2 separate regions of the Homo sapiens genome follow, and region 1 is linked to region 2. The links come from fine-mapping of genetic effects on gene expression. A gene starts in region 2. The other region holds a variant in brackets. All regions are shown on one strand. Distances are from middle to middle.

Region 1 (2,907 bases), 55 kb before region 2:
AAGGCCAAGCCAGAAGGCTCTCCTCGGCGTGCCACCAATGGTGAGAATGATAGCAGAAGTGACTGGGCTCGTGCCAGCAAGTGGATGAGGCAGGAGGAGCAGGAGTGGCAGGTGGGGCAGAGGAGCCCGAGGAGGTGGTGGGTCAAGCGGGTGATGAGGAGGACCCTGGTGCATGGCAGGAGGTGGATGACACACCAGTTGAGGAGGGTAAGAGCCCAGACCGCCCTTCCAGGAGCCCCTGAAGGCCGATGCTGGAGACATCTGGTGGGCAGGAGGTGGCAGAGGAAACCCACAATGAGTGTCACTGTGGTCATTTGCCACTCCATCTGACCCATCTTCCTTGATGAGAATTTAATGGTTTGGGCCCAGGCTTGGTGGCTCATGCCTGTAATCCCAGCACTTTGGGAAGCCAAGGTGGGCAGATCGCCTGAGGTCAGGAGTTCAAGACCAGCCTGGCCAACATGGTGAAACCCCGTCTCTACTAAAAATACAAAAAATTAGCCGGGTGTGGTGCCACATACCTGTAATCCCAGCTACTCGGGAGGCTGAGGCAGGAGAATCTCTTGAACCCGGGAGGTGGAGGTTGCAGTGAGCCTAGATTGTGCCACTGCCCTCCAGCCTGGGTGACGAGAGTGAGACTCTTGTCTCCAAAAAAAAAAAAAAGAATTTAATGATTTGGGAGGCCAAGGCAGACAGATCACCTGAGGTCAGGAGTTCGAGACCAGCCTGGCCAACATGGTGAAACCCCATCTCTACTAAAAATACAAAAATTAGCTGGGCATGGTGGTTTGTGCCTGTAATCCCAGCTACTGGGGAGGCCAAGGCCTGGGATTGGCCTCCAGACATCTGCCCACCAGATGTCTCCAGCATCGGCCTTCAGGGGCTCCTGGAAGGGCGGTCTGGGCTCTTACCCTCCCTGAACCTGGGAGGTGGAGGTTGCAGGGAGCCAAGATCACACTGCTGCACTCCAGCCTGGGCGATAGAGTGAAACCCTGTTCCCCCCTCCCCCCAAAAAAAATATTAATACTTTGGAGTTATGGTGTTTGCAGGGTATGTGGCTTTAAGGGTGAAGTTTTCTAGAGACCTGGCTGGGGAATAGAAATGTTCAGGGACCCAGAAATTTCTTGGAAGTAATGCATTTCCTAATGACACCTCTCTGCTTCCCTTCTTGATCTGTTCTCTCATTTATTTGCAGAATCCAGAAAGGTTTGATCTGGGGGACCACCCATACTGAGGAGTTGAAAGAACAAGGAAGAAGTACCAAGTCAACCAAGTTCTCTCTTGTCACTGAATAAGACTTTGGACTCTCTTAGGGCCCCTGTTGATAGAGATCTGGCCCTGAGGTAAACGATAGGTGAGGTCTTGGGTGGGAGGGAGTTGGGGAAGGGAGGTGGATCTCTATGCCCTTTTCTCTACCAGGCCTGCCGTTTCACCGCCTTCTCTACTCACCTTCTCTTCGGAGGCAGGAGAGTTGGTAAGAGGATTGGGAAAATTCTAGAACATTCATTCCCCTTTATGCATGAGCAGGGTCACTGTTACACTCATCCATGTTCAGCTTTTCTCCCCCACGCCTTGCTCCCTCCTCGGAATGGTCAGCGACCTCTGCAGGCCCTGGCATTTGGAAGAGCTGGGTGGCCCTGCCATATTCTTCCTCCCGCCTTCCTCT[C/T]GTGTAACCAGCGGGGTAAGTTAAGCCAGGACCTTCGCTGCAAACCTGGTTTTATTGCTCCTTCAGTCTCCAGCTTCCATCCTCCAGTTATCTAGCCAGGAGGTCCCAAGAGTTAGTTTTAGGGAAAAAGAATGTCTGCCTAGACCTCAAAGTCTTTGAGTTTTAGAGTCTGTTAGTAAAAATGGCACTTTGATTCCCATTTGGGATGAGCCCTCTCAGGAATCCTGTGGGGAAGGGGGGTGATTATAGGGAAGGACGCAGGCATTCCTAGGTCCCCAGCTCTAATTCCATCCATCTACCCAACTGTCACCATCTTTGCACCAAACTGTCACCATCTTTGCAGCAGAAGGTCACTACTCACATTATAGTAAGAGGGGAAAAAAATCTTTTAAAACTTGGCTGTTGGCCGGGCACGGTGGCTCACGCCTGTAATCCCAGCACTTTGGGAGGCTGAGGCAGGTCGATCACGAGGTCAGGCGTTTAAGACCAGCTTGACCAACATGGTGAAACCCCATCTCTACAAAAATTAGCTGGGCGTGGTGGCGCGCGCCTGTAATCCCAGCTACTCAGGAGGCTGAGGCAGATGAATTGCTTGAATCCAGGAGGCAGAGGTTGCAATGAGCCGAGATTGTGCCACGGCACTCCAGCCTGGGCAGCAGAGTGAGACTCTCTCTCAAAAAAACAAAACTTGGCTGTTAATGTCTGCCCTCTGAATTCAGACACACTATATTAGACCAGACCACCATGTGTCATTGTGTGTGTGTGTGTGTGTGTTTGCGTGCGCATGTGTAGAGGAGAGAGCAGGGTCCCTGAGATAATGGTTTCCAAACTGTATCGTAGCCGTCCACAAAGATGTAATCCAAATCTATTTTTCTCACGTGTTTAAAAAACTGAAAAGTGACTACTCAGATATGTTGGAAGTCACATCGAAGACTATCAGAATATTACCTTGTGTTCATAGGTTAACTTGTTTTTGTACACGTCTTAGTTATTTCAGGCATCTCTTTGCTTAAAATTGAGTTTCTTGTAAATGTGACTGATGAGCGAGGTTAGAAGTGGAAGAAATTCCTGTGCATGTTCTATAATCTGACACCCTGAAAGCAAGTTTCCTTTCGTCATTCACATGCTCTTGTTCTGCCGTGACTGTTCAGGTGTATGGTAGTAAGTAAATGTATTAACATGGTGAACAGTAGTAATATTCTATCATAGAGTATTAGCCCTTGCAAGTTTTCAGGGCGTCT
Region 2 (2,907 bases):
TCTTCTGCCTCAGCCTCCCGAGTAGCTGGGACTACAGGCACGTACCACCACGCGCGGCTAATTTTTTTGCATTTTTAGTAGAGACAGGGTTTCACCGCGTTAGCCAGGATGGTCTTGTCTTGATCTCCTGACCTCGTGATCTGCCCGCCTCAGCCTCCCAAAGGGCTGGGATTACAGGCGTGAGCCACCGCGCCTGGCCATCTTGACTCTTTGGTCGACACAAAAGGCAGACTATTCTGGATTCAAATCCAAACTCAACCACTCCCCATGGCTGTGACCTTGAGAGTGTGGTTTTATGTCCTTGGGCCTCAGTTTCCTCAGCTGTCTAATGGGAATTGTACTCATGCTACCAGTCTCCTGTTATAGCAAGGATTTCCTGAGTTCATTCATAGAAAGCACTGGGAATGGTGCCTACTACATAGGAAGCGCCTCATAAACCGTGCCTATCCTTAGCCATCTCATTCTTTTTTCGAAGTTGCAAAATATTTCACTGTAAGATACTACCATAAAATAGAGGCAGTCTCTACTCGTGAACTTTTAGGGTTTTTTGTTGTTGTTTATTTGTAGGGGTTTTTTTGCACTTTTGTTTTTTTGAGACAGTCTCCCTCTGTTGCGCAGGCCGGAGTGCAGTGGCGCGATCTCTGCAACCTCCACCTCCCAGGTTCACGCCATTCTCCTGCCTCAGCCTCTCGCGTAGCTTGGGACTACGCACGCGCACCACCACACCCGGGGTAGAGACGAGGGTTTCACCATGTTGGGCAGGCTGGTCTCGAACTCCTGGCCTCAAGTGTTCCACCCACCTGGGCCTCCCAAAGTGCTGGCATTACAGGCATGAGCCACCGCGCCTGGCCATGAACATTTGGGTTTATTCATCCCCTCAAAAATATGTATTGAGCCCTGACCTGCCAAGCGCCACAGTGGGACTGTTGCAGTCAGGTACCCATTTCTCTACCCACGCATATAGGTGTACGGGTACCGATAGTCGCGTGAATTTAAAATGCTAATCTGTGGTGCCAGTGGCTCTCAAAAAGTAGAATCCACTAGCACACCCACCTCCCGGACTTGGCTGGAAACTTGCACATTTCGGATGGCAGGTTTGGGAACCGCTGCCTTTCAGGAAAGGTGCTGACGTGGGCCACTGCCGCTTCGCTGGGAAGCAATGGGCCCAGCTAGGCCCGGGGCGCGGCCACACCCCTGTGGGGGAGGGGAAGGAGGCCGCCCCGAAGGGAGTGGACAGCCCCCCTGTCAGTCTTCCAGAGTCTGGGAGTGTAAGATGAGACGGGGGAAGGTGGGCCTCATTCTGGCGGAGGGCGAGGAGGAACTTCCTGCCCGCGCGCTCCACGGTGCAGAGCTCTAAGCGCGCGGGCTGGCAGGCTGCGGCGCGTCAAGGTCAGCCTGGAGCTGGGTGGCGGCCTGCCTGGGGGCGGGGGACCCTACTGGAGGCCCGGGCTGGGGCCTCCCAGCGCCTCGGCCATATTGAATAGCTTCGACTGGACCGTCTTTGTCTGCGAAGTCCTGTCCCAAGTTCCAGCCGCGTCCCTGGGGCCTGGGGCAGGAAGAGTCGCTGGCAGCCCGCGCGCCCCAACTTGGAGCTGGGACACCACGTTTCCAGCTTGGAGTGGGCCTTGAGCCTTGGGACTGACCTCGCCCCCGGCTCACGTAGGCATCCTGGAAATTGATTCCCCCAAGTCCTTGGTGGGGGAGCCGGACTTGGTCAAGACTGTACTTGTTGCAGGCGAAGAGATTGGAGGCGTTTGGCTCGTCCCTGGCTAGGGAGGTGAGACTCTCCGGTCAGCGTTGCTGGAACTCCCCCCATCCAGTCCCTCCCTCAAGACTAAGGGCTACAGTAGTTTGTTGGGGCTCATTGCCCCCTCACCCCAGATATCACCCTGGAGATCTTAAAGACTCTCGAGAAAAGCCACGTGGGGGGCTGGTTCCCCTGGGGCTTCCTGCCGTCCCCCGACTGCCTCATTCTTTGGAGCGTCCCCGATGTCTGCAAAGATGTGGATTTGGACGTCCTCGTGGAAGCCCTAAAGCCCGTGGGGACATTTAAGAAGATCGGCAAGGTGTTCCGCAAGGAGGAGGACTCCACGGTGGGGATGCTGCAGATCGGGGAGGACGTCGACTATTTGCTCATCCCCCGGGAGGTCAGGCTGGCTGGGGGCGTCTGGAGAGTCATCTCTAAGCCCGCCACCAAGGAAGCAGAATTTCGGGAGCGGCTGACCCAGTTCCTGGAAGAAGAGGGCCGCACCCTGGAGGACGTGGCCCGCATCATGGAGAAGAGCACCCCGCACCCGCCCCAGCCCCCCAAAAAGCCCAAGGAGCCCCGAGTGAGGAGGAGAGTGCAGCAGATGGTGACTCCTCCGCCCCGGCTGGTCGTGGGCACGTACGACAGCAGCAACGCCAGCGACAGCGAGTTCAGCGACTTCGAGACCTCCAGAGACAAGAGCCGCCAGGGCCCGCGGCGGGGCAAGAAGGTGCGCAAAATGCCCGTCAGCTACCTGGGCAGCAAGTTCCTGGGAAGCGACCTGGAGAGTGAGGATGATGAGGAACTGGTCGAGGCCTTCCTCCGGCGACAGGAGAAGCAGCCCAGCGCGCCGCCTGCCCGCCGCCGCGTCAACCTGCCAGTGCCCATGTTTGAGGACAACCTGGGGCCTCAGCTGTCCAAAGCGGACAGGTGGCGGGAGTATGTCAGCCAGGTGTCCTGGGGGAAGCTGAAGCGGAGGGTGAAGGGTTGGGCGCCGAGGGCGGGCCCCGGGGTGGGCGAGGCCCGGCTGGCCTCCACCGCAGTGGAGAGCGCAGGGGTATCATCGGCGCCAGAGGGCACCAGCCCGGGGGATCGCTTGGGAAACGCGGGAGATGTTTGTGTGCCCCAGGCTTCCCCTAGGCGATGGAGGCCCAAGATCA

What was found. PIP is the estimated chance that this variant, and not a neighbour inherited with it, causes the effect.
Region 1: its variant is the best candidate, but not a certain one, in a credible set for the expression of CCDC8 in aorta (GTEx, PIP 0.63).

The regions. Positions count from the first base shown.
Region 1 is chr19:46,466,866-46,469,772 of GRCh38, reverse strand. PNMA8A (PNMA family member 8A) reads left to right here. Exons shown (of 3, transcript NM_018215.4): 2 at 1-40; 3 at 1,196-2,907. The coding sequence ends at 1,212. Among named protein-coding and RNA genes, the nearest start is that of PNMA8A, 3.2 kb to the left of the region's middle. The variant C/T (reference allele first, on the strand shown) is at 1,667.
Region 2 is chr19:46,412,003-46,414,909 of GRCh38, reverse strand. CCDC8 (coiled-coil domain containing 8 subunit of 3M complex) reads left to right here and starts at 1,346. Exons shown (of 1, transcript NM_032040.5): 1 at 1,346-2,907. The coding sequence starts at 2,100. RefSeq lists enhancers at 1-472, 2,139-2,907.